2 separate regions of the Homo sapiens genome follow, and region 1 is linked to region 2. Evidence: fine-mapped expression QTL. A gene starts in region 2. The other region holds a variant in brackets. All regions are shown on one strand. Distances are between the middles of the regions.

Region 1 (16,427 bases), 49 kb before region 2:
AGGCCGTGAGGACCAGGTGGTGAGCAGCCTCTTCCTCCCTGTCCAGGGCGCGCTCCAGCACCAGCTCTGGGTTTATGGCTCCATTGTCTCCAGTCTGCACGTCCAGGGAGAAGTGGTGATTGGGGCTGAGCTGGTAGCTCTGGAGGGAGTTCACGCCCACATCCGGGTCAACAGCTTCTGGGAGTGGATAACGTGCTCCAGGAACCGCGATTTCGTTAATTTTTACTTCTAGATCTTCGACCTGGAATTTTGGGTTATTATCGTTAATATCAATTATTTCTATTTCTACCCCAAAGAGTTTTCCTTTATCCTCAACCAGGGTGTTAATATTTATCAGACACCGCGGGCTCTGAGCGCAGAGCTCCTCCCGATCTATCCTGCCCGCGGTGATCAAGCTGCCGCTGCGCGGGTTCAGAGCAAAGAGCTGCGTCCTACCTCTGGAGACGATACGGACTCCGTGCTTCGCCAGCTTCCGGGGGTCCAGCCCCAGGTCCTTGGAGATATTACCCACGAAGGAGCCTTTGTCCGTCTCTTCTGGCACAGAGTAGCGAATCTGTCCCCTCCCGATTTCCCACAGCGTTCCCAGCAGCGCGCACAGCAGGATCAGCTCGCCGCGTCTGGGGCGACTCTGTGGAGCGGCCATTGTTGTTTTGCTGCAGAATCCTCTCAGAATCTTCACTGTGCATAAATGGGTCTTATTTAGTTTCTTGCCGCAGCTATGGAGATGACAATCCTCCGGAAACCTGGAGTGCCTCCAAACAGGGGTCGGGTTTCGCTGCAGTCCAGCAGTTAGTTTGTGGCATCTGCGGGTCTTCGTGAGGTGTGAGATCTGAGTGTTTTCGGTTGCATTTGTCTTCCAGTAGGTGAACAGCGGCGCTTACAGTCCTAAATAGTTACTGCACTGAGATACAGATTACTTCTAAATGTAATACTCTACTAGATTACTGAGAAAAAAAAATCATTTGCTTATTACTTTGTTTTGAATTTATTTGATTTATCCGTAAACCCATATTTTAAAAGAAACAGCCAAAGAATGTGAGATGAAGGTTTTATTTAGTGTTATTAAATGATCAGATTAGATCAGAATGATCAGATTGTAGCATCGGATTAAATTACTCACATTTCTGCAATACATTTGGTCTTAAAAAAAACATGATACTTTCATTTCCCATTGTGCTCTAAGCTTTATTGTAAATGTCTCCAATATATACTAACAAATAACTAAGAACTTCAGTTGTCACCAGAAATGAATTTATCTTGAGACTAAAATAGACCTACTGGAGATGACTGACTCAGAAATTGTTTTATTTGGTTTAAACTACTTAATCATTTTACAAGCTTTCTATAGAGTTGTTGCTTTTAAATTATTCTTCTAAATGCCACTTGAATTACATGTCGATAATATTTTCAAATAAAAATTGTGGAATTTCAATAGGATAAATGCTTTTACCATTGCAGTTTTATGAGATATTACATTGTTTTGCTATTTTATTTACATTGTTTATATTTTTCTATTTGAATACTTGAAAGGTACAGATGAATATATGATAAAAAGCAAAGCTCCATCCCATCCCTTTCACCAAAGAGATGATTAAATTTAAAGCAGACTTGACTTTTACATATATTCTAAAATTAACTTTACCTACATTAACACTTTGATCTAAAAAACTGCAAAAAGTAATGACTATATAATACTTACTAAGAAGCCAAAGGATAAGTATGACTACAAAAAAGTCTGTTTCCCTTCAAGACCAGCCTGGGCAACGTAGCAGATGAACTTATTTCACCCTTCCTTTGAAGACTGGTATGATAGTTTTTTCACTGACTAAAACTTTCTTAAAACCACTCATGAAATCTGAAAACTTTATATTTTCCTGTGAATATATTTTCTTATGCATATGGAAAACTGGGTAGACAATGGAAACCATACCAGTTAAATTAGTGAAAGAAAATATTTTCTCTACTGAAAACAGAAAAATTAGCCAGGTCTGGTGGCATGAGCCTGAGTTCCAGCTAGTCAGGAGGCTGATGCAGAAGGAATGCTTGAGCCCAGGAGTTTGAGGCTGGAGGGAGCTATCATTGTGCCACTGCACTACAGCCTGAGTAACAGACAGAGACTCTGTCTCAAAAAAAAAAAAAGAAAAAAAAAAGAATCGAAAGACGTTTCCTTCTTTCAGCAATTTGTAAAGTGGCCATTAACTGAAGCAGTTGCTTAGATATACCTAGCAAAAGGCTCATATAATGTTCCTTGGTATTTTGTATATATTTTGTATGCACACCAGATTGGCAGTTTTCAAGACTATATTTCTTTCCTAGAGGTAGGAGAATGATTAGAAGACCTCTAGCTATATTAGTTTAGGGCTGCAGATAAGGCAGTTACACATTATATATTAGGGCTGTGTGTGAGAGGGACAACAGACACAAAACATTGTCTTTTCTTTGATGAAGGATATAGAATGAGCTTGAATACAGATTAATCCTGAAACTCCTATGTTACAAGTAAGGAGAATCTGCTTTTGATCTTCTAATGAGCATAGTAGACCTTTTTCTAAGTAAAAGGATCTCTCTCACACACACACACACACACACGCACACACAGCGTACACTGCATATAATCACAAGGGGTCCATGGACATAAAAATCCAGTTGACTCCTTATTCTAAGAGCTTTTGAAACAAAAGGGAAGTTAACACAGGAAACAAAACAGTGGACTACTATGGAGACCATACCAGTTAAATTAGTTAAGAAAAGTGTTGAATTTTAGCTTAAATTCTTTGGCTTTATTATTTTTATATTTATGGTATATCCAAGCTGAAAAAAGTATTCATCATATATTAGTCAACAAGAAGGAAAATGTATAGGAAAAATCTCATTCACTTTTTAGGAGAGAGCCAACAACTGTCTAACACTTTCACTTTGTGGTTAAAACCACACCCTCATTGCTTTATAAATCTAAGCTTGGCTAAAAAACAAACAAATGTTGGGCCACACAATTGCTCCTACTTTACTCCTCCTTTGTAGAATGATATGACAGCTTTTTAACTGACTACAACTTTCCTAAAATGATCCATGACATCTAAAAATTATATATTTTCCTGCAAATATGTATATTTTCTTGTGAATATGGAGAAATGGGTAGGCAATGAGCATTAAATTATACTTAAAGGAAACTCACCTGATGGGAAGTCAATTCACTGGAATTACAAAGTGGAAATAAGGCCCCAGATGAATCACCGCAAAGTATGTCTTGTCCTGAACTCAACTGCTCACTACATTTTAGGAAATTAAACTCCGTCTTTCCTGTATGTGCAACACATAGATTGTAGGAATAAGGCAAAGTCCCCTCGCTGTAGTTGGGGGGAACCACGGATTCGGATTTAACACAGAGACCAGGCTGGAAGCAGCTCCAGGAGGCGGGGCTGGAGGAGCGTCGCAGGCGCAAGGCAATGGCCAGAATCATGGCCACGAGGAAGAGCACTGAGATCAAGGCCAAGGCCACCACTAGGTAAAACTGCAGCTCAGCCTGGAGGTCAGAGGGGTCGGGGCGGTCAGTGATATCCGGCAGCACCTCCTGCAAGCTGTCGGCGAAGACCAGGTGCAACGTGGCAGTGGCCGAGAGTGGTGGCTGTCCACCGTCACGCACGGCGACCAGAAGGCGCTGGCGGACGGCGTCCCTGTCGCCTAAGGCACGCGCTGTGCGCACTTCGCCCGTGCGCAGCCCCAGGCTGAAGAGCCCGGGCTCGCTAGCCTGCAGCACGTGGTAGGACAGCCAGGCGTTGTGTCCTGAGTCTGCGTCCACCGCCACTACCTTGGTCACCAAGTAGCCAGGCTCTGCAGCGTGCGGCACCATATCGAAGAGCGCAGAGCCGTCGGGACCCAGCGCGGGGTACAGCACCCGTGGCGCATTGTCGTTGCGGTCGTCCACTAACACGCGCAGGCTCACGTTCGCGCTGAGCGCTGGCGAGCCCTGGTCGCGGGCCTGCAGTGTGAGTTCGAAGGCGCGCAGCTGCTCGTGGTCGAAGGCGCGCTGCGCGAACACCACCCCGCTCTCCGCGCTTATGGACACGTAGGATGACAGCTCCCGCTGCTCCAGGTCACTGGCCATGATGCAGTAAGAGACTTGGCCGTTGGGCCCCAAGTCCGGATCAGAAGCCCTGACTTGTGAAATAGAGGCTCCAGGCGGGTTGTTCTCGGCCACGTGGACTATATAGGAAGACTGTGAGAAAACCGGAGCGTTGTCATTTACATCACCAATGTGCAGGGTGATGCTGGAACTGGAGGAGAGGGGAGGCTTGCCCCGATCTGTTGCCGTAACGGTTATATTGTACTCTGGATTCTGCTCGCGGTCTAGAACAGCATCTGTCACTAATTTATACGTGTTTCTTGAAGAAGTTAATATTTTAAATGGAACATCACCTTCCAATTTACAAGTCACTTCTCCATTGTGTCTGGAATCCTTGTCACGGACTTTGAGCAAAGCAATATGTGTTCCCAGCTCGGCGTCCTCCATAATTAGGTTGGGTAGAGACTGGAATATCACTTCTGGGGCGTTGTCATTTTCATCTATGACTTCTACCTCCACTGTGCATTGCGCAATCATTCCTCCACCGTCCCTTGCTTCCAAAACTATGGAATATTCTTTGACTTCTTCAAAATCTAATGTATTTAAAACAGTAATTTCCCCGGTGTTAGAGTTCAGGTCAAATTGGGTGATCTGGCTAGCTTCACTGAAAGAGAAAGTAATCTCGGCATTGACACCCTCATCCTGGTCCGTGGCAGTCACCTGTAGCACCGTGGTCCCCGGGTACACGTTTTCTGAAAGGCTCACCCTGTATACGTCTTGACTGAACACTGGAGCATTATCATTGGCATCAGTCACTAGAACGTGTATCTGTGCAGTGCTGCTTAGGGGTGGAGCTCCAAAGTCCAAGGCAGTCAAAGTCAAGTGGTAGGATTTCTGCTTTTCTCTGTCCAAAGGTGTCTTCAATACCATCTCAGGGTATTTACTGCCATCTGATTTCTCTTTATTTATCAGTGAGAAATGATCACTGGGACTGAGTTGGTAATTCTGCAGTGTGTTGCTACCAATATCCGCATCATGGGCAGATCCTAATATAAATCGTGTGCCAGGCTGTGCAGACTCACTTATTTGCAGCTCAAAGGAATTTTGCGTGAATTTTGGCGTGTGGTCATTAATGTCCTCGATCTCCACATTCACGTGATAAAAGTTCAGTGGATTTTCAGCAACAGCCTCAAATTCCAGAGCACAAGCTGGCTTCTTCCCGCATATCTCCTCCCTGTCTAGCCTGCTGCTCACAAGCAACTCCCCGCTCTCTGCGCTCACGGTGAAGTAAGGCTTCTCCGAACTGACGCGCAGTTTTCGAGTCGGTAACTCCTGGACGCTGAACCCCAGGTCCGTGGCGAGGTTCCCCACTACGGAGCCCTTGGGCATTTCCTCGGGAATCCTGTAGCGGATCTGCTCACAGAGCGCCGGGCAGAACAAAGACAGCAGGAAGAGAAAGAGCACTGGCAGCCTCTCAGCCCGGCCCAGCTCCCCGGCGCCGCTCCCCATCCCTCTTGCTCTCCTCAGCTTGCTCACCAGCCTGGAGACGCCGGGTTACAAATAACCTCTGTATTGCAGATTTTTGGATCTCCGAACGGACTTTAGTTGCAGTTCCAGTTCAAGAAAAAATTCTTCTTTTTCCGAGGAGGAAGCGGTGTAAAGGCTGGCGCTGGGGAGTCTGAGCTGGGGCTGCCCTGGAAAGCGCGCTGCGGCTGCGCGAGGAGATCTGGAGCGCCAAGCTCTCCACTTTGGCCAACAGCGGCGCCCAGAGTCAGCACTAGGAAACTACAGCCTCTGCTGCTTCAAGTTAACCAGTGCAATAATTATAATTGTGTGCCTAACTGAAAGAACAAAAACTACGTGGATACGTCTGTATATTTAATGACGTCTAAAAATGTACTCTTAGGAATGCCTTCATCCCAACTTTGAGGATTTTTAGGCAAATCATGTAGATTAAGTACATAAACATTTATTGACATAAGCTTTCCCCAATCTTCAAACATGCACTATCTATATAAAGATAGCCATAACACAGACTTGGCCTAAACCGTCTCAGAGTACAGTAATTTTCCATACTTACTCATTAGAAATATACTGGATACATTTTATCTTTCTTTCATTGTTCCTAACATTTTCTCCACTTTTCTAAGTACCTCCAAGTTGATTTATTTCAACTTTTTCCGGAGAGTATCAGTAATACCAAAATTGCCTTTTAGAAGGTGCAATTTATACTTATCTTCAAATACACCCCCTTCCCAATAGTTTCAGTGATTTCATTACAGGAATATTATGTGATTCTCATTTCGATGATCACAGGCAGTAGCCTACTCCTCTCCTCATTACACAATTATTTTACTGGTTATGAAATACAACATTCATCTTCAAAGTTATCAGGGGGATAATACATAGCCTCAAAACACAAAGTCACTGAGATCTGCTGCACTGAAGCACTGCTTCCTACCTCTGCACTTATTTTACATTCCTTGGTGACCTCTGAATTGAAGGAAACAATCCCTGGAAAGTTTGATTGCAATAGCTCACTGAGTTTAGTGATTATGTCTCTCCATTGCTTAAAAACAATTTTATGCATCTAATAAATTTTGGTCAGGAGATTTTCTTTTACAAAATACCTTATAACCGTAGTTCTGCCATAGGATCTTCCCTCAGTAACATTGTTGGTGTCAGCAACATTGTCTTCTACCCCAAGTGATTGTACATCTGAAATGTGAACACTGCAGAACTTGTAAAATGTATCCAGCCTGGGTGACAGAGCGAGACTCCATGTCAAAAAAAAAAAATGTATCCCCCACACTATTGTACAGAGTCTATCATGTGCAAAATACTACCAAATACAACACTAGTCTAAAAAGAGTCTTTTTTTGAAGAGACAGAGTCTTGTTATATTATCTAGGTGGGCCTCCAATTCTTGGGTTCAAGCTGTCCTCTTGCCTCAGCCTCCCATGCAGGTGGGCTACAGCTTGCAACACCATACCTGGCTAAAAGTGTGTTTTTAATTAATACTCAAAGGTCTCTGGAATCAAGATTACCTTGTCATCCACCCCTTCTGGATGACAATCACTTGATATACTGAGCTTTACTAAAATGTTATACAAAAGAATATGGAAGTAGTTAATCCCAGATTGGGTTATTTCCAACTGAATTTTTCAGTAGACCTAATAAATAAAATCAACTACTGGTCTAGGATCTGTGTACATAAGATGGTCTAAGGTTTGAGTACGTGAGACAGTTGAAACAAAGCCAGTATCCCCAATCTCCCACTTTGATAGCCCACAGACACACTTCATCTGGCTGTACCACTAAAACAACATACTGGAATTCTCTGTTAAAACATGTAATTGCCTATGTCACAAATGCCAATTACAACACTTAAAATGACATTTTATTTGACATATTTTATTGGTTTTGTCCGATGGCCTTTAGTGTGGCATTAGACTTGATGTCTGTCTTTGATATAGATCTTAGTGAAGTGTGATACACACACATTTCATTCTTTAGGCATAAATCCAACCTTCTACTACCACCCCATTAATAAATGATTATACTGTAAATAGGTCAAGAAGCAATCAAGATTTTTTAGGACCACCAAGCTGAGGTACATGGAGGCAGAATCAGCCACAGAAAAAAATCTTCACATGGAAGAAATCTTTCAGAACCTTTTACATATTTGAATGCTAAAGAGAATCCTGAGAAGACAGCTGAGGTGTGTTTTATTCCTGCTAACCTTGTGCAATATGAAAGACTCGATTCATTCCAATGTATAAAATATATGAGTTAAGAAAGTAGGTTGGAACATAGATTGGAAAGTAGGTGGAAATTATAAAATGTGATAGTCCACATATTCATAATCTTGTCCATAGGCTTTCACTAAAGAAATACTATATCCTATGTGTTCTATATTAAAGTGTCACCACTGAAGGAAACTGGTAAACTCATTTTTACCTCTATAAAGTTTTTTAAATCCCTATTTTCAAAACATTTGTTTTGCAAAATAATAGAGAAATATCATGCAAATAAATTCCTCATGGAAATAAAGGAAGGGCTGGGCTCACCTGAATACTTGGCAGGTTTTCTTTACATTCCTGAAAATCTACGGATGTTAGCAAAGAATCATTTTTCTCACAGCTCTCCTGGCTGATGAGCATGTCTACATAGTTGGGCTGGGGGAAGATCAGGTGACTCTTCCGAGAGTCCGCGGTGAGGGAGACCTCATGGGAATAGGTCTGCAGGAAAGCCTGCACCCCGTCCATGCCCACAAAGTGCGAGGTGGGCACGTTCGCCAAGCCACCTTCTGAAGCCTGCAGCAGGCGTGACTTGTGCCAGCGCCGCAGCCTGAGCGCCAGCAGTACGAGGACGAAGGCTAGGAAGACGCAGGAGACTGTGGCCACCGCCACCACCAGGTACAACGTGAGGTCATAGTTGTAAGGACCGTCGGAGGGCTCAAGGCTGCCCAGGTCGGCCAAGACTTCGGGGATGCTGTCAGCCACAGCCACGGTGAGTGTGACGGTGGCTGACAGAGGAGGCTGACCGTGGTCCTGGACGGCCACCACGAGGCTCTGCTTGAGGGCATCTCTGTCCAGCAGGGCCCGAGCCGTGCGCACCTCGCCCGTGTACAGCCCAACCGCAAAGAGTCCTGGCTCGCTGGCCTTAAGCAGGAGGTATGACAGCCAGGCGTTCTGGCCTGAATCTTTGTCCACCGCCACCACCTTGGTCACCAGGTAGCCGGGCTCTGCGGAGCGGGGTGCCAGCTCCATGCCAGTAGAACCATCTGTGGGGAGGGCCGGGTACAGGATCTCGGGCGGGTTGTCATTCTGGTCCAGCACGAACAGGCTCAGTGACATGTTGCTGCTGAGAGGCGGGTCCCCGCTGTCATGTGCAGTCACTCTTAGTTGTAGTTCTCTCAACTGCTCATAATCAAAGGATTGCAGCGCGTACAGGACTCCAGTGTCAGAGTTTATGGAGACATAGGAGGACACTGGAGCCCCCTGGATGGTGTCTTCGGCCAAGGAATAAGTGATCTGGGCATTATCCTCACTGTCGTGGTCCTGTGCAGTCACTAAGAAAATGGAGGCCCCTCTGGGGTTGTTCTCAGCGATGTAGACTGAGTAGGATGAGTGGGGGAAGGTGGGTGGGTTATCGTTGGTGTCTGCCACCTGCATGAATATGTGAGTTTCCCTGGACAAGGGAGGAGTTCCACCATCTGTGGCTTTCAGTGTGATGTTATACAAAGAGAGTGTTTCCCGGTCCAAGTTTTTGGTTGTGACCAATCTATAATAATTATCTATTGATTTTTCTAATTTAAAAGGTAGGTTTTCTGGAATGGTGCAGGTCACCTCACCATTCTTTCCAGAATCTCTGTCTTGTAGGTAGAAAAGAGCAATGACTGTCCCAAGAGGTGTGTCTTCAGGGATTGAGCTACTTAAAGACGTCATAGTCACTTCTGGAGCATTATCATTTACATCTAAAACTGTGATCAGTACTTTTGCCTTTGTCAGACTACCAGGACCATCTTGAGCCTGAACCTCCATTTCATAGAAGGCAGTTTCTTCATAATCTAATCCTTCTAAAGTTGATATTTCTCCTGTAAGCGAGTTCAGATGAAACATCTTTGGAAGTTTAGGAGTTATTTTCCGAAAAGAATATGTCACTTCCCCATTGACTCCCTCGTCCAGGTCGATAGCATGTACCGTGAGCAGTCTTGTACCCACTGGCACATTCTCGGGGACAGTTACTTGGTACTGAGGCAGAGAGAAGACAGGCGTGTGGTCATTCACATCCACCACTGTCACCTGGATGTGGGCGGTGCTGGATCGGGGCGGGTCGCCGCCATCAGAGGCTGTGAGGACCAGGTGGTGAACCCGCTCTTCCTCCCGGTCCAGCACCCGCTCCAGCACCAGTTCCGGGTACTTAGTTTCATCGTCTCCACTTTGCACAGCCAGGGAGAAGTGGCGATTGGGGCTGAGCTGGTAACTCTGGAGGGAGTTCGTGCCCACATCTGGATCCCCAGCCTCGCTTAACGGAAACCGAACCCCAGGAGCTGTATTCTCCATTATTTTTACATTTATTTCTTCCGTCAAGAATCTTGGAACGTTGTCATTAATATCTATTATTTCCACGTCTATAGGGTAAAGATTCATTTTATCTTCCATCAGGATGTTAAAGTTTACCAGACACCGCGCACTCTGAGCGCAGATCTCTTCCCGGTCTATCCTGCCCGCAGTGACCAAGCTGCCGCTGCGCTGGTTCAGGGCGAAAAGCTGCGTCCTACCTCTGGAGATGATGCGGACTCCGCGCTCCGCCAGCTCCCGGGGCTCCAGCCCCAGGTCCTTGGCGATGTCTCCCACAAAGGACCCTTTGTCCGTCTCCTCCGACACGGAGTAGAGAATACGTCCTGCCCAGGCTTCCCAGGGGGTCCCCAGGAGGATGGAGAGCAGGAAGAATCCTCTGTAGTCCCCGCCCCTCGGCTGAGCCGCCATAGTCGTCCTGCTTCTCTTGCTTAGGCGCCGATCTCGGGAAGTGCTTCAGAATGCGGGTGTATCCGGGTGGACCCCTCTGTCTTAGGAAGGGGAGCTCAGAATCCAGCAGGATAGAGGCTTGAGTTTAGTGCAGCCTGGAAGAGGGCTTATCGCAATCTGTCGTTTCTCTGTGCTGTAAAACTCGGTGGTTTCTGTGGGATCTCTCGCACCATTTTTCCCTGGTTGGTGAACAGCGGCGCTGTGAGTCCTTACTAAGTTACTGCACCACATTGATGCACACAATACACTGATTTCATAGAAAATTGTTTCATCTTTCAAAATTTCCCTGTTAGATTTCTTTGCTCTAGATATCCCTGATAATTAAAAATCCATTTTAAGACACTGAATTAATGCAACAGTGTTCATGGACCGGTGTTTGATAATCTTAGATAATTTTTAAAAAACTGCTTTGCCTTGCAACTTTCAAGTGACTCTTTTGGGCACTGACTCACACGTTATTGCACATGGGAAAATCAGTTATTGAAGGCAAAAAGGTAAATTTTATTTAAATACATATGAAAGATTTTACTTAGAAAATATTTACATCAGTGTATATAAATTTTAATTAATTCAGTATTAATTGAACACATATGTTCTAGACACCATGATGCAAGATTCAGAAAGTCAAAATTGTTGTAAAATATATAGAC[C/A]TATTTTAATAAATTTTTGATTGTATAGAACCTTAGAGACGGTCTAACACCTTCATTTTAACCGTTTAAAAAATGAGAGGGGGGGCCAGGTGCTGTTGCTCACGCCTGTAATCCCACACTTTGTGAGGCCGAGGCGGGCGGATCACCTGAGGTCGGGAGCTTGAGACCAGCCTGACCAACATGGAGAAACCCCGTCTCTACTAAAAATACAAAATTATCCGGGCGTGGTGGCGCGCGCCTGTAATCCCAGCTACTCAGGAGGCTGAGGCAGGAAAATCGCTTGAACCCGGGAGGTGGAGGTTGTGGTGAGCCGAGATCACACCATTGCACTCCAGCCTGGACAACAAGAGCAAAACTCTGCCAAAAAAAAAAAAAAAAAAAAAAGAAGAAGAAAGAAAGAAAGAAAGAAAGAGGGAATTGCCTTGCCTTGTTCCTGATTATTGATTATATAGTAGTAGAACAATGTCGGAATCCAAATATTCTCACTCCCAGTCTTGTGAGAAAAAAAGAAAGAAATCGTTGTTTGTCTTGGCTGCAGCAATCAGCTATAGAAGCAACCCATTTTCTACAGAAGGCAGAAATCTGCAGAGATCCTACTGGGCTGTGAATTCATAAGAAACTGGATAATGGATTGGCTGATTCTTTTCATTATGCAATTCAATTCAAGTCTTCATCCTAGTATGCAATTCAAATCTTCATCCTACTCTATTCTAGTGTAATTGAGAAAACAGGGATCTCTAGACAGCATTTGAGCAAAATGCAGGACTGTCCTGACAGGATCCTTAGAGGTACTCGTCTCTCCACTGATGTTGATAGAGTAAAACTAAATTATTGATGGATCCGAGGCTACCCTCTGCTAGCAGAAAGAAAAGAAAGCTCCTTTCACATAGTTGCAGAATAAAAGAGAATGACCTGCTCTGGAATAAAGACCTGGCAAGAAACAGTCTTGGTTTGTAAATTCTTCTAGGTCCTGGAGAGTAGTTGGTGGAACCAGGAGGAGAATCCAGAACTAACACTAAGAAAGCTTAACTTCGTTTTGTGGGAGGCTCCTAAGTAACCTATTTCTGCTTTCTGGTGGCATTGCTCCAGAATACAGGGAACACTTTGAAGGACATTCTGTTTTGATCTATCAAAATAATCCATAGTTATCTTTGCATTCACAAAGTAGATAAATTTTGTTTAAAGGAACTAATAGAGGTATTATAGATGAATTCTGTAAACTGGAGTTAAATTCTATTTGTTTAATAGTACTTTTGAACTTCTTGTTGAGGCAAGCAAAGTGTATGATTATTAAACAATGTAAGCACTTGTAGATATTTTCAAACAAACTTTCATGTTTGGAGGTTATAGCTCTCAATGTCTTGATCCATTTTTACCTGATGCCTCAAAATTCATAGTTTCATCTCACATTTGTTTCTTATTCTACTGTTTTAAAAAAGTCTCAATTAATTTATAGTGTCTTGGTACCTTCTTTGGAGAAAAGGAAATAAGAGCTAGTTAAATTAAATTATAGACTACTCCGAACACAAAGCATACATACCCTATGGAGTAAATGGCTTCATTGTCTCTAGCATTCACATTTTCTAAGTTATCGAACATCATAAAATTAAATATTAAAGATCTTTACTAGACCGCCAAGATATGTTTAATAAAATCTAACATAAGCTCATTGTATCAAATTGAAATCATTTCATAGTTTAAAGAGTGTATATTATTGTTGACTGAGATATTGGGAAGAATCCTGACCATTTGTTTGGTTGCATTAAAAAGAATTCTATGTAAAGTCTATTTGGCTTCCTGGGCATCGAATTGATTATCTTCTCTCTTTTCTTTTTTGGGACTTTTTTTTCTAAAAAACAAACAACAAAACAGTTCTTTGAAGTTCCATTTAGATTTTCATTCTCAAGCAAAGATATAGGTATCTTCCAATGTTTCTCCTCTGAGATTTTACTCCTTCCCCTTTGACAATTGCCACCTCAACAGAAGCCTGATCAGAAATGAATGCCTTTCAGGCCGGGCTCAGTGGCTCATGCCTGTAATCCCAGCCCTTTGAGAGGCTGAGGCGGGTGGATCACTTAAGGTCAGGAGTTTGAGACCAGCCTGGCCATCATGGTAAAACCCCATCTCTACTAAAAGTATGAAAATTAGCTAGGCATGGTGGCATGCACCTGTAATCCCAGCTACTTGGGAGGCTGAGGCAGGAGAATCGCTTGAACCCAGGAGGAGGAAGTTGCAGTGAGCAGAGATCACACCACTGCATTCCAGCCTGGGAGACAGAGCAAGACTCTGACAAAAAAAAAAAAAAAAAAAAAAAAAAAAAAGAGGCTTTCACAGACCATAAAATAAGAATAAGACAATAATTTGGTAGTTTTTTTTCCTGATGCTTCAAAATTCTATACTGAACTCTCAAAACCTCAGATAGCCTATCTTATTATTAATGATCTGTATTGCAGGTGGATTAAAGAACCTCATTTAGCCATAACTTAGCAAATTCCATGACTGCCAGGATGTTTAACAGTTGGTCAGTCCACATGAGTGAATGACTTTTGTGAGAGTAGAAGTTGGTAGTTTTTCCATCAGAGAAATATTTTATTTGTTTAAATGAAATGGTCACAGGTAATAAGAGAATAAAATAAACCAGCCTGATCTCCATGAAAAGTAGTTAGTGAGCTTTCCCTATAACAACAAATGCTCAAGATGTAGTTTAACATCCCAAATTGGTAGTATAGTAAAATAACATTCACACTTTCAGAGTTTATGAAATAATCATATGTATAACAGCCCATCTAACTCATGAGACTAATATCCAAGATTCAAGTTGTTTAAAATTGTTATTTTATCAAATTATATCACAAAGATACAAGAAAATGAGCTTTGAAGATGTGTATGATTAGATCTCTTGTTTAGGTATATACCTTTGGAAACTTGAAATAAATAAATCTATAACAATTCCTTAAATGTAAATACCACAATATTGGTTCAGAAAAACACATATTACTCTTAGCAGCTTATTTAAAAACACATCAACTCAATGTTATCTTTAAGAAGACTGACAAAGTCAGGTTACAAAGGAGGTTCTCATTTATTTTCAAGGTATCTTCTCAATTGCTTTTTTCTTACACATTCATAACAAATTCAGATGCACAAGTGGCCAATCCATTCTATAATACCACCAGATTGTAGAATCTTCCAACTCATGACTGGAGAAAAATCTTGACTATAATGTAGTTCAACAAGTCATCAAATTAGAGAATCCCCTGTACTCCATTCATTCCAGGGCCATCAACTTACTTTTGAAGACTGTCGATAACAGAATCTCCTATCTCCTTAGTGATCCATTTTCTATTCGAACATCATTGACAGTCAAAAACTCTGCTGTTTTCTGTTCATGAAACAATGATTCTGTTTGCACATTTCAGTCATAATAAATAAGACTAATCAGTCTTCTAAATGATAATCCCTTTTTTCTTGAAATATTTCAATAAAGAGTTCCTATATGATGAAAGCCTTATTGTCTGGGTTAAAATGCTAAAATATTTAAATTTTTATTTGAACCTCATTAACATTTGTTCTCCCATTCACCAGTCAGTCATCTATTTTTAGAGATATGTCCTGTAAGCAGACACTACCGAGCATGTTTTAAAATTCATGTTCACTCTTTATTTATTAATTATCATTATTATTTTTTGAGACAGAGTCTCGCTCTGTCACCCAGACTGGAGTGCAGTGGCACGATCTTGGCTCACTGCAACCTCTGCCTCATGGGTTCAAGCGATTCTCCTGCCTCAGCCTCCCGAGTAGCTGCGATTACAGGCCCATGCCACCCCACCTGGCTAATTTTTGTATTTTTAGTAGAGACGGGGTTTCACCATGTTGGTCAGGCTGGTCTCGAACTCCTGACTTCGTGAGATGCCTGCCTTGGCCTCCCAAAGTGTTGGGATTACAGGCATGAGCCACCGCACCCGGCCATTTTCACTCTTAAATACTATCAGGCACACAGTATGCAAAAGACACTGTAGTAGGCACACAGCATCGGTGCTTAGTTATTGTTAACAACCCAATAATTATAATAATGGTGATGTCAACAAATACGTGTTCACTATGCTGCTTTAGAGTTTGAAAAAAAGTTATAAAATTATTTTCTTAGAATTTGAGTCAGATAGATAAGGAAAGTCTTGTTTTAAAAAATAATATAAGTAGAGCTTATTTGAGCCAAGCTTTAGGATTGCAACCCAGGAACATAGATTCAAGTTGCCCTGGATACACACTCTATAAGCAGCAGTTACAGGTGGATTTTTACTCCAGACTGGGCAACAGAGGGGGATCCTATCTCTGATAAGAGAAGTCTTTTAAATCTTAATTTTAATTGGAAGATAATGGCGATTGTAACTGGCCCAAGTAAATAACAGATAGTTACAGGAATGTTATTCAGGTCTTTTAACACCAAAGATCTGGTGTCCCCTGCTGCAGTTACCAATGATTCTTATCTTTTCAAAAATAATTTTTGATTCCTAAGTAGTAAAGGTGAAAGATCTCTTGTATGAACGTCTGTCGTTTATAGTTATCAAGTAACACTGAGAAAAAACAAAATCTTTTTTTTTTTTTGAGAGAGAGAGAGAAAAAGTCTCATTCTGTCTCCCAGGCTAGGGTGCAGTGACACAATTATATCTCACTGCAGCCTCATACCCCTGGACTTAAGCAATCCTCCTATCAGAGCTTCTCGAGTAGCTGGGACTACAGGTGTACGCCACACATCTGGCTACTTTTTTTTCTTTTTGGTAGAGACAGAGTCACCCAGGCTGGTCTCAAACTCCTGGTCTCAAGGGATCCTCCTGCCTCAGCCTCCTGAAGAGGTGGGATTACAGGCGTGAACCACCATGCTAGCTAAAACCAAGATCTTGATCTTTAACACTGACCTAAATTAAGGTTATTTTTTTTCCCACATTAGAAAAAGAAAGAACCTTACAAATGTCACATAGTAGGAAAAAACCTAAGAAACGAGATGTACTCAATCCAAGACACAAATAGTTTGCCAAGAAGAGAAAGGTAAAGAAAAACTAGGACATGCATTATTTTCCCCCACAAAATTAAGACTTCAGAACATTCTTTTGATATAAAAGAAAAACATTAGAATTATGTGACTCTCTGCAAAGGGCTAAGAAAACTAAGCACTAATCAAAG
Region 2 (16,427 bases):
CAGGAACCGTTAGTTCACCAATTTTTATTTCCAATTCCTCTGTTGGGAAATTAGGAGCATTATCATTAATATCTTTAATTTCTATTTCTACTTCAAAAATTTTCAATTTATCCTCAACCAGAATGTTAATTTTTACCAGACACAGCGGGATCTGAGCGCAGAGCTCCTCCCGGTCTATCCTCTCCGCGGTGACCAAGCTGCCGCTTTGCGGATTCAGAGAGAAAAGCTGCGTCCTACCTCTGGAGACGATGCGGACTCCGCGCTCCGCCAGCTCCCGGGGCTCTAGCCCCAGGTCGTTAGCGATGTTGCCCACGAAGGAACCTTTATCTAGCTCCTCAGACACCGAGTAGCGGATCTGACCGGATCCTGTTTCGCACAGCGTCCCCAGGAGCGCGCACAGCAGGGCCAGTCCTCTGCCATTTCGGAAACTCAGGCAATTGGTCATTTCCTTTTCGGTGAATCGCTTTCTCTGAATTCGGTTCCAGTTTCCTACGACGGACTCCAATCTTATTTTCTCAAGAAACGAAGTCTTTTACGGGCCTAATTCACAGGTCAAACAGCTGGTTGACTAAGAGGTGAGGTTGGCAGCCGCCCCGGATCTTCTGAGTCTGATTTGCTGGTTCTTTGCATTTTAGGAGCAAGGAAATGGTGGACTAGTTCTCCAGCTGCGTTCTCCTTCTTGAGTGGTCAACAGCGACACTAAGAGGCCTAACCGTTTACTGCATCCTCTCAGACACATTATTATTTTTGAATTATCCAAGATCTGAAATCCTTCTTGTCAGAGATAAGAGGACTAGTGTTGATTGAACATAATTGAATCGATATATGTTAAACAGTGTCACCTCAAGTTATCTTTCTTGGGAATCCATGCACTAACCTTAATGCCACCAATATTGCTTCAAACATAGTGGAGTTAACTTTTTTGAATTGTTCAGTTTAAGAAACACACAGTAACAAAGAACTGGCCGTAAGGACCAACACAACTATTAAAAGACATGACCACCACTTGTTCTTCCACCACTGAACCTTGATAATGTGTTTATTCTTATACTTACTACATTTATCAGGGTTATTTGATAAGATATCCACCTCCTCTTTGACCTTTCCCTCTCTATACTCTTAACTCTCTAAGAGCTGAGACAAGGAAAAAAAGAAAAGAAACACACAGAAATCAGCCATATTTATACATTATATTTCTTTAAGTTTGTTCTTGGTGACCTGATAACTTAGTTTCGATATTTGTTGTTATTTAATATTCATTAAACAAACACATAATTAGGCATCAGACAATATGTTTGGGGATTTAAGGTGAACAATATAGACACAGTAGCTTCCTTCACAGAGATTATAAGGATATAAAAGCAAACAGGGAATTGCAGTGTACTGAGATAATTACCATAATGGGAGAAGCCAAGGGGGTTAGGGGGGCCTTCAATTGGGCCTTTAATGTTAGCAAACGCTTTCCCAGGAAACATGAGAGGAGTGGATCAGTGAAAAGGCCTGGATGTGGGAGAGAACAGCATGACAATGCCTAGGTGTGAGAGAGAAATCACAGACCTTCAGGGTACTGAAAGAAGTTTCCTTTGTTTAAATCTAGACTGTAAGGATGTTTTTTCAAAACCAACTGAAACTAGTAGAAATAAGCTTTTATGTTCCAGAATCTCTTTCCCCATAAGTTTCCAAGCACAGAAATATAAATACAATATATTTGTCGTTTCAATCATGATGCATTACATATCTATGCATAAGACATTTATTCTTGTGGAGTTACTACACACACTAAAAATAACTTTGCTTTAATTTTCCTGTTTATACTTTATTATTCACTTACAAGTAAAGCTATTATGACATATTATTCCACAGTGAGTTCCAATTTTACTCATAGACAATTATGTAATAGTAACCAAAACAACACCTTGTCTCAGAAAATTTTTTCTTGATCAAATGCAACGGAAAGAATCACAGCACTTTGAGAAATATGGTATCATTCAATAAAAGGCTCAATTGGTACATGATAATTTTCAAATAAAAATAAAAAATGATGCCAGTTACATAGAACATTAGTGTGCTTATTATTCTCTGTTATTAAATACATAACCAACATACTAAAAGCCAATATAGGAAGAGGAATGGGAAAAGAAAATTGATCAGAGGGGCACTGGGATTGGGTGAGGGATTGGGAACATTTCTAGCAGCTATTGTGAGTAGAAACCTTGAGAAGAGAGATGTATAAAGAAGTTGGTTCTGGGCAATTGTATGATATGAATCTTTTGTATCTTTTCTTTAAGCAAAACTATATTGAGGATATATATTATTTTAAAGATTAAAATACAGTATGGTTCCCACGTATGAGAAAGATAAAAAAAAAGGAGAAACCTGTTTATTACCACTCTACAGCTTTATTATAGAGCAGATGATAAGTCAGTCACTTCTTCAAGAAGCATATAGCTTAGAGGTTAATGTGATTTTTAAAACTAAGCCAAAATAATATGACATACCTTCCTGAAACACTGTAAGGAATGTATATTTCTAAATTTCCATATTTTTAACAGGGAAGGGCATGCAAGTTAAGGAAAACAATTTTGCTGCCAAACTGAAAGAAATGTATTAAGACTGAATGAGAAAGAACTAGCCAACTAACATGTTTCACTGTTCATATACAGATTCAAATATAGAGTAAGAGTCATAACTTAAAAGAAGAAAGGACTTGAGTAAACATAAACTCCAATCTTTATATTTTTAACAAAGAAAAAATTGTTGATCTGGGTGGATGAGATGATTTGCCCAGGGATGGAGAAGAAAGTATAAGAAACCAGACACCCTAGTTCCTAATGCAGTGCTCTTTGGATAATCTTATCTATTAACTCCTGGTTTACATTCATTGCACAAAGATTCTCACGTCTCTTCTTCCTCTTACAGCCTGTGAACACTAAGACCTACCAAGAAATAATTCACCAAGACTCACTTCCTAAAACTTGACTCTACCCTCAAGGAAATATGGGGAACAAAATAGATATAGTAAACAAGTAAGTGAATTACTTCAGCAAACTAGCTAGTACGTATGTTGTGAAAAGATAGATTACCTGAGAAAACGTTTCTTCTCTTTCTTCTTCGAGTAGAGATTGAGGCGCTGATAAAAAATCCTTTTTCTCACAGCTCTCCTGGCTGATGAGCGTGTCCGCATAGTTGGGCTGGGGGAAAATCAGGTGGCTCTTCCGCGAGTCCGCAGTGAGGGAGACCTCGTGGGAATAGGTCTGCAGGAAAGCCCGAACCCCGTCCACGCCCACAAAGTGCGAGCTCTGCATGCCTGTCAAGCTGCCTCCTGAAGCCTGCAGCAGGCGTGACTTGTGCCAGCGCCGCAGCCTGTGCGCCAGCAACACGATGACGAAGGCCAGGAAGACGCAGGAGACCGCGGCCACCGCCACCACCAGGTACAGAGTGAGGTCCGAATCGTTGGGTATGGCGGAGGGCTCGAGGCTGCCCAGGTCGGCCAGGATGTCGGGGATCCTGTCGGCCACGGCCACGGTGAGCGTGACAGTGGCGGAGAGAGGGGGCTGGCCGTGGTCCTGGATGGCCACCACGAGGCTCTGCTTGAGCGCGTCTCTGTCCAGCAGGGCTCGCGCCGTGCGCACCTCGCCCGTGTGCAGACCCACCGAGAAGAGTCCCGGCTCGCTGGCCTTGAGCAGGTGGTAAGACAGCCAGGCGTTCTGGCCCGAGTCTCTGTCCACCGCCACCACCTTGGTCACCAGGTAGCCGGGCTCTGCGGAGCGGGGCGCCAGCTCCACGCCAGTGGAACCGTCTGTGGGGAAGGCAGGGTACAGGATCTCGGGCGCGTTGTCGTTCTGGTCCAGCACGAACAGGCTTAATGATACATTGCTACTGAGTGGAGGGTTCCCGCTGTCCCGCGCTATCACCCACACTTGCAAGTCTCGCAACTGCTCATAATCAAAGGAGCGCAGTGCATAGAGTACTCCAGTGTCGGAGTTGATAGAGATGTAAGAGGATAAGGGTGCCCCCTGAACAGTGTCCTCCGCGAAAGAGTAAGTTACATGAGCATTGTCGTTGCTGTCGGGGTCATGGGCCGTCACTGAGAAGACAGAGGCTCCTCTGGGGTTGTTTTCGGGAATGTAGGTGGAGTAGGATGTGCGGGAGAAGGCGGGTGCGTTGTCGTTGATGTCTGCCACCTGGAGCAAAATGTGAGCATCCGTGGACAGGGAGGGGTTCCCTCCATCTTTAGCGGTTAGAGTGATGTTGTAAAAGGAAAACTGTTCCCTGTCAAGGGCTCTGGTTGTAACCAGTCGGTAGTAATTGTCTACTGACTTTTCTAACTTAAAAGGAAGATCCTCGGGGAGTGAACAGGTGGTGAATGCGTTCTGCCCAGAGTCTCTATCATGTACATTAAAAAGCCCAATTATGGTTCCTGGAAGAGAGTCTTCAGAAACTGAGCTAGTAGCAGATGTCATGTAAAATTCTGGGGCATTGTCATTCACATCCAGAACCGTGACGATAACCTTCGCTCTGGTTAGAAGGCCCGGACCATCCTGAGCTTCAATATCAATTTCATGGAATGTAGCATCCTCATAATCTAGATCTTTTATGATTGTCAGTTCTCCAGATGTTGACTTAAGCTCAAATACCTCTGAGGTTTCTCCAGGGCTTTTCTCTAGAAAATATACCACTTGAGCGTAGTAGCCCTCATCTGCGTCAGTGGCGGTCACCGTGAGTATCCGGGTGCCCACGAGCGTATTCTCCGGAATGCTTATGCGGTACTCGGGCTGTGTAAAAACAGGCGCATTGTCGTTCGCATCCAGGACCTTCACGCAGATGCGGGAGGTGCCAGATAGCACTGGGTCACCCCCATCAGAAGCCACGAGAACGAGGTGGTGAACAGCCTCTTCCTCGCGGTCCAGAGAGCGCTCCAGCACCAGTTCTGGGTACTTGTTCCCATCAGCTCCCCTTCGCACGTCCAGGGAGAAGTGGTCATTTGGGTTGAGTGCGTACTTCTGAAGGGCGTTCTCACCTACGTCTGCATCATGCGCATTCTTAAGAGGAATCCGGAATCCTGGCGTAGTGGTTTCACTGATTTTTAGCTCCAGTTCCTCTACTCCAAAGCGAGGGGCATTATCGTTAATATCTGTTATTTCCACCTCTACTGAATAAATAGTCAATTTATCCTCCAGCAGAATGTTAAAATTCAACAGACAGGGTGCGCTCTGAGCGCAGAGCTCCTCCCGGTCTATCCTGTTCGCAGTGACCAAGCTGCCGCTTCGCGGGTTCAGAGCAAAGAGCTGGGACCTACCTCTGGAGACGATGCGGACTCCCTGCTCTGCCAGTGCCAGGGGCTCCAAACCCAAGTCCTTGGCGATGTTGCCTACGAAGGAGCCTCTGTCGATCTCTTCCCGCACAGAATAGCGAATCTGCCCGGCCCTGGCCTCCCACAGGGTCGCCAAAAGGAAGCACAGCAGGACCAGCTTTCTGCAGTGTGGCAACTTTTGCAGAGCCGCCATTTCCCTCCTGTCGCAATTTTCTCCGAGTCAACTTCCAGCATCCAGTGCGGATTCCAATCTTTATTCCTCAGGGTGTGAGATAACCAGCATTCACGGGACCCAGGTCCCTATGGAGAGAACTGGTGGGCTGTTCGACTGAATTTCTTTGGTGTCCTGAAGCTTTAGGGCCAAACCTCCACCCCCTTGTGCTGTGGGAGCCGTATTGCTGGATTGGATGTCTCGCTGCCTTTTACTCCTTAGGTGGTCAACAGCGACGCTCAGAGGCCTAAATAATTTCTGCACCTGCTCAGGAAAACCTAAGTTACTTCTTGTTTGTTTGCCTTTGTTGACTTTCAAGGCGCTTTAAAGAATCTTACAGCTCTAAGATACCCTAGAATTAGATCTTTCAAAACAGGAATCTTTTTATCAGGATTAATAAGAATGGTATAAATGAACATGATCTTGATAATAGTTGCTAGGAAAGTATTATTGACTGCTCAAGGCATTAATCAATGCCACCACTGCCCTTGCTCCAAACATCTTCCATCTCTTATTGTATAATCAGAAGCAGTAAGATCAATTAAGAAACGTTAGCTACGTTTTCTTCTAAGGTTATATATTTTGAACGTTTATGGTTGATGGCTTTGCATTTACCTTCAAAATCTGCCTTTAAATTATTGAATCATCAGACACTTAATTGGGTACATGTGCCTCCCACTTTGCATGATTGCAGCTGGAGCTAGAAATGGTGAACATGATAAACACAGGCCCTGGTCTCAAGCGTGAAGGTTGGAGGAGGACATAAGAAAGTAAAGAGAGTATAATAGAGTATGGTAACTGCTGTGATATGAGGTAGGAAACACTGGGTGATGGAGGAATACCTAGGAGGGGTATCCAGTCTAGATTTGGGGTCAGAAAAGTCTTTTTGAGGGCATGATTGAAGCTGAATCATAAAAAGTAGGATTGAATCAAGAAAAAGGCTGAAGAAGTGTTCTAGAACCTCTGAACAAATGCTTGAAGGTAAGAGACAGCATGGAACATTACAGAAACAGAAAGCAGGTCTATTTGATAAAGCTAGAGCCGGAAGGGGTTTTTCACCACACTAGGAATCAGTCACTCAAAATTGTTTGAGGTTGTCAAGTTCTTTTTCTGATATTCATTTTCCAAGGGTGTAAAATACAATGCAGTGGATGTCTTCTTACTCTTGTTTCATCTTTACCATTTTGACCATAGTCAAGCATACAATTCTGTGACATTAAGTACATTCAAATTACATTCTGGTGTGACCATTACCACCATCCACTTCCAGAACTTTTTCATCCTCCCCAACTGAAACTCTGTACTTATTAAATAGCAACTCCCCATTGCCTTTCACCCAGTCCCTGGCAACTACCATTCTACCTTTTTTCTCTATGAATTTGACTAATCTAGGAACTTCATATATGAGGAATCATACAGTATTTGTCATTTTATAACAGGTTTATTTCACTTGATATCATGTCTTTGAAGTTCGTCCATATTGTAGCATGTAACAGAATTCCCTTCCTTTTTAAGGCTAAATAACAGCCCATTGTATGTGTGAACCACTTTTTATTTACCCATTCATCTGTCAATGGACACTTGGGTTACTTCCACTTTTCAACTATTGTGACTAATGATGCCATAAACATAGGTGTACAAATATCTGTTGAAGTCCCTATTTTCACTTCTTTTGGGTAATAACCAGAGTGGAATTGCTGGATTATATGGTAATTCTATGTTTAAATTTTTGAGGAGTCACCATACCATTTTCCACAGCAGTTGTGTCATTTTATATTCACCAGCAATGCACAAGAATTCCAATTTCTCCATATTCTTGTTAACATTTCTTTTCTTTTCTTTTATGACAGCAATTCTAATGAATGTGGAGTAGTATCTCATTATGGTTTTGATTTGCATTTCCCTAATGACTAGTGATGTTGAACATTGTTTCATATGGTTTTGGCCATTTGTATATCATCTTTGGAGAAATGTCTATTCAAGTCCTTTGCTCATTTTAACATCCAATTGTTTGGGATTCTTTGTTGTTGAGTTCGAGTTCTTTATTCTGGATATCCATTCTCAGATACATGATTTGGAAACATTTTCTCTCTTTCTGTGGGCTGCCTTTTCACTCTATTGATATTGTTCTTTGCTGCATATAGTTTTTAACTGTGATAAAGTCCAGTATACAATTTTTTTCTTTTGTTGCTTGTGCTTTTGGTGTCATATCCAAGAAATCATTGCCAAAAATCAATGTTATGAAGGTTTCCTCCTGTTTTCTTCTAAGAGTTGTATAGTTTTAGTTCTTAAACATAATAACTAAAAGGGTTTTATTGCTTCTGAATATTGCTTCTTTGATCCATTTTGAATTAATTTTTGTATGTGGCATAAGTGGAATTGCCCATTTCTGGTGACACTTTAATCTGTTTGCCTTTTGGCTCCTTCCTTATTGAAATTTTCTCATTTTTACTTTCATCCATTCCTCTTACAAGACTGAAGAAAAATATATTGGAAATAATTGATACCAACTCACCATGTTTTCTTGTAGAGCTACTATGGTATATTTTGCTTTTGTTTTTTATTTTTATTTTTGTGTTTGTGTTTGTGTTTTTTTGTTTTATAGAGATTGGGTCTTGTTATACTGCCCCGGCTGGATTCAAACTCCTGGGCTCAAGCAATCCTACTGCCTCAGCCTACTCAGTACCTGGGATTATAGGTGTGCCATTGTGCCTGGCTCTCTTACATGAGTCCTAACGTTAGACTTGACAGAATTTTCATTTTCTCCCCACTGGTTTTATTACATTTATTGTCTGCTTCCATTATTTCATCCTCAGAACTCTTCCATGGTTGCATTTCAAAAATGTAACTCTTTGTTATTTTTTCCATCATTTTATTTTAGTATATACTCATTGTATGTTTTTTATCTTACTTCTTGAATGGCAAGCTAAATTCATGTATTTTAAATAATTTTGTTTGCTTTTAAAAAAATTATTGCATTTGTCTATAAACTTACTCCTAATTAGTTTTAGTTGCATCTCACAATTTTTAATAAAGAATATTTAAGTCCTTTTTTTCTGAGTAGTTTTCATTGTCATTGTGATTTTTGAAATCCAAGAGTTATTTAAGGGTGTAGATGTAAATATCCAAACTTTTTCCCTTTTCTATTTTTAAATGTTTGCTTTGTGATTAAGTATGTGTTGTAAGGCAAGTATATTATTGGTACTTTGCAATTTGCTGAACCCTTTTTTGTAATGACTAGGTAATAAACTTGTAGATTGTCTGCTTGTTCAAGGATGACTATTCCATATTTGTTGTGTGCAGAACGGATCTATTAGAATCCTAATAGATCAAGCTTCTAAATTATGTTGTTCAAATCTTCTTTATGTTAACTAACTTTCTTCCTGTGGGGTCTATTATTTCTTATGGAATTATGTTTAAATATTCCGGTATTTTCTAAGCTATATTTTTCAGTAATAGAAGCTTATATTTTTATATCCTTTTGATCATCTGCTCTTTTTACAACTATAATCAGTTCATTTTTTAAAATCACAATTTGTGTTTGTTACCTTAAATATGACTTTGTTGTTACATTAACATGACTTTCTTTTTTGTGTGTGTACATATATATTTAGTTTCACTGTTTCAGTGTATTTTTATTTTAAGCACGTGTATTATTAGAATATGGATTTTAAAAATCAACCAGTTTTGTAATATTTGTCCTTTAATAGGTAAATGTAGCTCACTTGTATATACACAGAAAAAAAATTATGATTATAAGAGCTGAGAAAGTCCAGAAGTGAGATAACTTAGTTATCAATTGAGAGTATACTCTTGGTACCAAGCAAAAAATAAAAATAAAAATGCAACAGACACACAGCAAGAATGAGAGAAAGTCTTCAATAGTTACCAGAGAGAAAACAGAGATTACCTTAAAAAATAACAGTGTGTTGACAGAAAGTTTCTCACTAGTAACAATAAATTCTACGAGACAAGTGTGTTTTGAAATTTTGGTTTGTATATTTATTTTTAGTGGAAGAGCTCTGTTTGTTTTTAGTTTTAGTTTGTTTTTTTCTCTTCTACACTATATCCCTCTCTCCTTCCCTCCTGGGTTCAGTGCTCATTTGTAATGGTTTTGAAATAGTTTCTATCTGACCTCAGGTCCCAGGCCATAACTAGGTCTCTTAATGACGCTTTAATGATGCACAGCAGTGATATTCTGGATACCACAGCTCACATATGAGATACTTGGTGTTCGCTGTCTCTATCCAGCATCCGTGTCTGTCTCTCTCTCTTGGTCTACACAGCTTACGAAGAAAGTTATAACCACCGGAATTGGGAAACAGCTTTTATTATTATATTTATTTATTTAACAGGGTGTGGCTCTGTCGCCCAGGCTGGAGGGCAGTGGCGCGATCACGGTTCGCTGAAGCCTTGACTTCCTGGGCTCAAGGGATCCTCCCACGTCAGCTCCTGCCCCGCCCCGCCCCGCCCCTCCCCGCCCCGCGTAGCTGGGACTACAGTCGCAGGCCGCCCTGTCCGGCTGGTCTTGAACTCCAGGGCTCCAAGGATCTTTCCGCCTCAGCCTCTCAAATTGTTGGAAATACAGACGTGAGCCACTGCGCCCAGCTAGGCAGCATGTTAATGCATCTTTCTTTTCCTTTTTAACCAGCTGAAGGGCCTCATTGCTTATTTTGGATTCAGGCAGTAAGCCTGGTCCAGATATTTATCTAGTCTGAAGCACTTCTGTCCCTATTACATTGCTGGAGGCAGTTTCCTAACCTTCAATTTCTGCTTTTAAGTCCAAGACTATAACTCACATGGCTTTAGACTAGCTCACCACTTTGCTTTTGCTTTCCTCTTATATTTTATGTATCTCTGTATTTTATTGGAGCAGAGTAAATACATCAAAGCATGGACTTACTCCCCGACCATACTTTTTTTTTCTTCTGAAAAGTTAACACACATTAAAATAGGATATATACTTGATTTTTGTTAGCTGATTTCATTACAGGTATAATGTATAAGTCAGGAGGCTTCAAAGATATTTCTCAAGTTGCATGATAAATTTTGTGTTGTTCATTTTGTTACTTCATACATTACTTAAATAGACGTATTCTTCAGTACAGGCACCACAGCTCACACCTGTAATATCAGCACTTTGAGAGGCTGAGGTGGGAGGATCGCTTGAGCCCAGGAGGTAGTGGCTGCAGTGAGCCATGATCATGCCACTGCACTCTAGCATGACCCCATCTCAAAACCAAAAAAATCTGATAATAAAGATAGAATAAAAGGCTAAAATATTCAACAATAATTTAAAATTGCAGTTTATATAGATCTCTATAATCTTATATGAACACAACTAAAAATACTACTTTAGACAATCTTCACCTCTTCAAATGTCCCCAAATAAACTATCACAGTGTCCTGACAGATGACATCTACATTAAATTCAGGGGTAGATTAGCAGGTACTTATAAAAAGAAAATTTGAAAATAGTGTTAGTCATTTAAATATTGGTGAGCCTTTTCTAATCAAACCTTTTAGCCCAGAGGCAAGTAAGAAAATGTTAGAAGCTAGATCGCCGTTTCTAATGCAGTGCTCTTTCCAAACAGAGATGGCATCTCACACATACCTTCAACCCAACCACCTACATTATGATCACAGTCTCCTTTTCAGTGCAAGAACAATTATAAATATACCTGCATATGAACGTGTAGACTCAATCGTGATTTTGCAGGACTTGTAATAAAAAGCTACAAAGATACATGGGTTAGAAGAACTATCTGTAGCAAAGAGCGAACGCTAGTAAGTTAAATCAAGAATTATTTTTCTCTAGATAGCTGATACATTCATCACAAAAGTTTACCTGAGAAAATGGTTCCTTTTTGTCTTCAAGTAAAGACTGGGGTGCTGATAGAAAACCCTTTTTCTCACAGCTCTCCTGGCTGATGAGTGTGTCCGCATAGTTGGGCTGGGGGAAAATCAGGTGGCTCTTCCGCGAGTCCGCAGTGAGGGAGACCTCGTGGGAATAGGTCTGCAGGAAAGCCCGAACCCCGTCCACGCCCACAAAGTGCGAACCGGGCATGCTCGCTAAGCCGCCTCCCGAAGCCTGTAGCAGACGTGACTTGTGCCAGCGCCGCAGCCTGTGCGCCAGCAGCACGATGACGAAGGCCAGGAAGACGCAGGAGACCGCGGCCGCCGCCACCACCAGGTACAGAGTGAGGTCCGAATCGTTGGGTTTGGCGGAGGGCTCGAGGCTGCCCAGGTCGGCCAGGATGTCGGAGATCCTGTCGGCCACGGCCACGGTGAGCGTGACAGTGGCGGAGAGCGGGGGCTGGCCGTGGTCCTGGACGGCCACCACGAGACTCTGCTTGAGCGCGTCTCTGTCCAGCAGGGCTCGCGCCGTGCGCACCTCGCCCGTGTGCAGACCCACCGAGAAGAGTCCCGGCTCGCTGGCCTTGAGCAGGCGGTAGGACAGCCAGGCGTTCTGGCCCGAGTCTCTGTCCACCGCCACCACCTTGGTCACCAGGTAGCCGGGCTCTGCGGAGAGGGGCGCCAGCTCCACGCCGGTAGAACCATCTGTGGGGAGGGCGGGGTACAGGATCTCGGGCGCGTTGTCGTTCTGGTCCAGCAGGAATAGGCTGAGAGACACGTTGCTGCTGAGGGGCGGATCCCCACTGTCCCGCGCCATCACTTTCAGTTGCATGTCCCGGAACTGCTCATAGTCGAAGGATCGCAGCGCATACAGGACCCCAGTGTCGGAGTTGATGGAGAGGTAGGCAGATAGGGGTGCCCCCTGGATAGTGTCCTCTATTAGGGAGTAAGTGATTTGTGCATTCTCATTGCTGTCCAAGTCGTGGGCCCTCACAGAGAAGATGGAGGCTCCTCTGGGGTTGTTTTCGGGAATGTAGGCAGAGTAGGAGTCCTGATGGAAGACTGGGGAGTTGTCATTGATATCTGTCACTAGTAGTGAAATGTGAGTTTCAGTAGATAGAGCTGGAGTTCCTTGGTCTATTGCTGTTATTGTGATGTTGTACCCAGAGATAAGTTCTCTGTCCAGTGTTCTTTCAGTCACTAAACGGTAATAATTATCAACTAACTTTTCCAATTTAAAGGGTAAATTTCCAGGAATGAAACATGTGGTGTAGCCATTGTCTCCTGAGTCCTGGTCATGCACACTGATAAGAGCAATTATGGTCCCAGGAGGAAAGTTTTCTGGAACTGCAGTGGTGACAGAGGTGATGGTCACTTCTGGGGCATTATCATTTACATCCAAAACTTTGATCAGTACCTTAACTTTAGCCATGAGCCCCGCACCATCCTGGGCTTGAACTTCCATTGAATACATTTTGTATTCTTCGAAATCTAGTGGTTCTTTATTTGATATTTCTCCTGTGTAAGAATCTAAACGAAATATTTGGGCCACTCTGTGGTCTACATTGTGAAAGGAGTACGTTACTTCCCCATTGGCTCCCTCATCAGGGTCAGTGGCATTTACCATGAGCAGCTGAGTACCCAGCGGCACGTTTTCGGGGACATTTATATGGTATTGTGCCTGAGTAAATGCTGGAGGATTGTCATTTGCATCCACCACCTGAATGTAAATTCTGAGGGTCCCTGAACGGACTGGTTCACCCCCATCAGAAGCTGTGAGGATGAGGTGGTGGACAGCTTCTTCTTCTCTGTCTAAGGGACTCTGCAGCACCATCTCTGGATGTTGAGGCCCATCGGCTCCCTGTTGCACATCCAGGGAGAAATGAGGGTTAGAGCTGAGTTGGTAGCTCTGGAGTGAGTTCATACCCACATCAAGGTCTTGCCCAAAAGGCAATGAGACTCTGGTACCTGGAGTCGTTATTTCATTCATTTTAAACTCCAGTTCCTCTAACTGGAATTGGGGAGTGTTGTCATTAATATCAATTATTTCTACTTCAACAGGAAAAAGCTTCATTTTATCCTCAACAAGGATATTAAAACTCACGAGACACGGCATGCTCTGAGCGCAGAGCTCCTCCCGGTCTATCCTGCGCGCGGTGATCAAGCTGCCACTTCTAGGATTCAGAGCGAAAAGCGGCATCCTACCTCTGGAGACGATGCGGACTCCGCCATCTGCCAGCTCCTGGGGTTGCAGCCCTAGGTCCTTGGCGATGTTGCCTACGAAGGAACCTTTGTCTGTCTCTTCCGGCACTGAGTAGTGAATATTCCCAGCCCCAGCTTCCAACAGCAGCTCCAGAGAAAGACACAGAAGCATCAGCCTGCTGCAGCCAGTCAGCTTTTTCTGAATCTTCATGGCTCTCTCACTTCGTAGTTTTCTTCCAGTCCAGTACCAAGGGTATCGTTTCTGCTTTTCTGAGCTGAAATTAACCCAATTTTCAGGAGAATTCTGACTGGAGAGTCATCCAGAAGTAGGATTTAGGCAGTCTTGGACAGTCAGTTTTCAATCTGGCGGTTATGGAGGTTCTAAGAGGCACGAGAGCTTTTTTCTTTTTCTTTTTTTTTTTTTTCCTCCTCCTGACCTGTGTGTACTGCCTGTATCTACCAGATTAGTGAACAGCGGCGCCCACAGTCCTAACCAGTTACTGCATTCCTAGCAAATACTGAAAACCTTCTCATTAACTTGTTATTTTCTTAAGTTTTAGTCTATTGTCAAGGAAATAATTCTACAATATATGTATGAAAAAGAGAAACTATATGTTCACTTCTTTAAATGTGCCTAAATGTCACCAAATTGAAATATACAGGAGAATCCAAGTATTCCCATGTTATCTGCTTTCCAAGTTTGCTATTCAGGGAATTATAGTAAAAACCTAACATTACAATGAGGACAAAATCATCTCTCCACTTTTTCTGTAGTAAAGTTTGACCACTTGGTAATTTCCCAGGCCACATAGAGCAGCTCCCCTTTGACTGGAGGGTGAAAAGTATTAGAGGGAAAAATAATCTTTTAGAATATAAGCTAGACTTTAAAAAAATCATACCATCCCATTTCCTTCCCATTATGATTTGAATATTTATCAGAAACCTTGGGATTTTGAAGAGCATGGTTTAACCCTATCCTTATTTTTCCTCTTTTTTTTTTTTGAAGTGTCTTTGCATTATGTGGGTTTTTAAAAAATTCTTAAGATTCACCAAAGGCAATATATTTTGAAAAAAATAAAACTGGGCTCTTGGAATTTCATTGAAAAGTCACATGAATATATAATTTAGATTTCAAATTTCAGAGACAAAGTCTATGATATTATTCTTCACAGCTGAAAAGAAAAATGGTCTCATCTTTATTTTTAGATAGGCTCTTATAATATGTATTCCTCTATAATCGCACTTAATATTTTCTCCAAGAGAAGTTGGTTTTCTCTTAACAGTATTTTTTAACCAGTTGAGGATGTGGCCTTCTTTTTTTTTTAATCACTGCACTATTAGCAAAGGGTTACTAATTAAAATGTCTCAGGCTTAGAGTGACTTACTTATCTTTACCCCAAAGTTAGAGAAGCATGCTATCTGTACTCCAGAGTCTGATAATTTCAGGAACAAATTCGGCCAGCCAACCCATGGACACCATGACTGAGAAAAGTTAAAAATGAGGAAAGAAAGAAAACAATGAAAGGTCTCAATAATAGTTTTTGGAAAGAGAACTTTAGTTCTTAACCAAATCTACAGTTTCTCAGCTTCTCAAAGACAAGTACATGGAGCCAAAGAGTAGAAATTTAAAGGTGCAATAAATCATCTTCAATATTGCAAGGAAGTAACTCTTTAACAGAGAATGTAACTTTTCAGAATACACATTAATAGGCATAAACTTTTCCCCAAAGAAATTGTGAGCTAATGAGGTAAATTAAAATATACATAAGAACTAGTAAGTAAACCTGTAGAGCTCCCTACTTTCAGCAACCAAAAACACGCAGGAGTGATTTATAAAAGGATGGTAAGTATAAAATAAAAATGTTAAAATATCACACAAATACATTTGAATCAAATGCAACATTTAAAGCTTCATTGCTGCCCACACACAGTGGCTCACGCCTGCAATCCCAGCACTTTGGGAGGCCAAGGTGGGCAGATTACTTGAGGCCAGGAGTTTGAGACCAGCTTGGTCAATATAGTGAACCCCGTTTCTACAAAAACAAAAATAAAACAAAGCTTCATTGCTGGCACTGCAGAGAATACCTGGTTCAAAGCTGTTTCTTGAGTTAAAGAAATTAAGATTTTAAAAATATCTAAAACCACACATACGTTGTAGGAACAGGGCAAATTTCCTTTCTTTAAGTTGGAGACAACTCCATATCCGGGCTTGGACCAGAGATCCAGCTGAAAACAGCCCCAGGCAATGGAGCTATAGGGGGCATTGCAGGTTCAGAGAGATGGCCAGAGTCACACTGAGGAGAAACAGCATGGAGATCAAGGCAACGGCCATCGCCAGCTGTTGGGTGCTGTCTGCTGCCTGCTGTTGGGTGCTGGGCGATTGCTGAGGTCTGGTAGCAACTCCTGCAAACTATGAGCAGCAACCAGGTGATGTTTCAGCGTGATGATTCACCATTGACCACGGTGACCAACAAACCTTGGCAGGTTGCATCTCTGTTACCCACAGTGACACGGCACGCATCTAGCTCGTGCACATCCCTAGTTTGAAGAGCCACATTAGCTGGCCTGAAGCACATGATAGGACAGTCAGCCTTTATGCCCCAGCTGGTGTCCACTTTGGTGATGGGATAGCTGGGTTGCATTGTGAGTGGTGCAGCATCAAAGAGGGCCCCACTTGGCTGCAACTCCTGGCATAGTGTCCTTGCATTTTTGCAATGGTCATCCACCATCACATGCAGGTTCAGGATGACACTGAGCAAGTTGAACCCTGGTCACTGGCCTGCAGAGTCAGCTCAAAGATAGTCTGCATGGTAACCATAGCACTCTGCACTCACTGACATGTAG

Direction of the effects. Alleles are on the strand shown, and positions count from the first base shown. SD is a standard deviation of normalised expression in the study named.
With allele C in place of A in region 1, the expression in esophagus muscle of the gene that starts at base 5,719 in region 2 is higher (small effect, 0.35 SD a copy in GTEx).

The links. PIP is the estimated chance that this variant, and not a neighbour inherited with it, causes the effect. A credible set is the group of variants that fine-mapping cannot tell apart.
Region 1: its variant is the best candidate, but not a certain one, in a credible set for the expression of PCDHGA2 in esophagus muscle (GTEx, PIP 0.71).

Annotation. Positions count from the first base shown.
Region 1 is chr5:141,377,030-141,393,456 of GRCh38, reverse strand. The region is part of intron 1 of PCDHGA1 (protocadherin gamma subfamily A, 1); the gene reads right to left. All of the region lies in intron 1 of PCDHGA2 (protocadherin gamma subfamily A, 2), which reads right to left. All of the region lies in intron 1 of PCDHGA3 (protocadherin gamma subfamily A, 3), which reads right to left. The region is part of intron 1 of PCDHGB1 (protocadherin gamma subfamily B, 1); the gene reads right to left. It also overlaps PCDHGA4, PCDHGB2, PCDHGA5, PCDHGB3, PCDHGA6 and PCDHGA7, and 3 more genes. The variant C/A (reference allele first, on the strand shown) is at 11,247.
Region 2 is chr5:141,328,052-141,344,478 of GRCh38, reverse strand. It overlaps PCDHGA2 (protocadherin gamma subfamily A, 2), which reads right to left and starts at 5,719. Exons shown (of 4, transcript NM_018915.4): 1 at 3,084-5,719. The coding sequence starts at 5,507. It overlaps PCDHGA1 (protocadherin gamma subfamily A, 1), which reads right to left and starts at 13,965. Exons shown (of 4, transcript NM_018912.3): 1 at 11,374-13,965. The coding sequence starts at 13,794. It overlaps PCDHGA3 (protocadherin gamma subfamily A, 3), which reads right to left and starts at 650. Exons shown (of 4, transcript NM_018916.4): 1 at 1-650. The coding sequence starts at 445. It also overlaps PCDHG@. RefSeq lists a silencer at 10,580-10,809.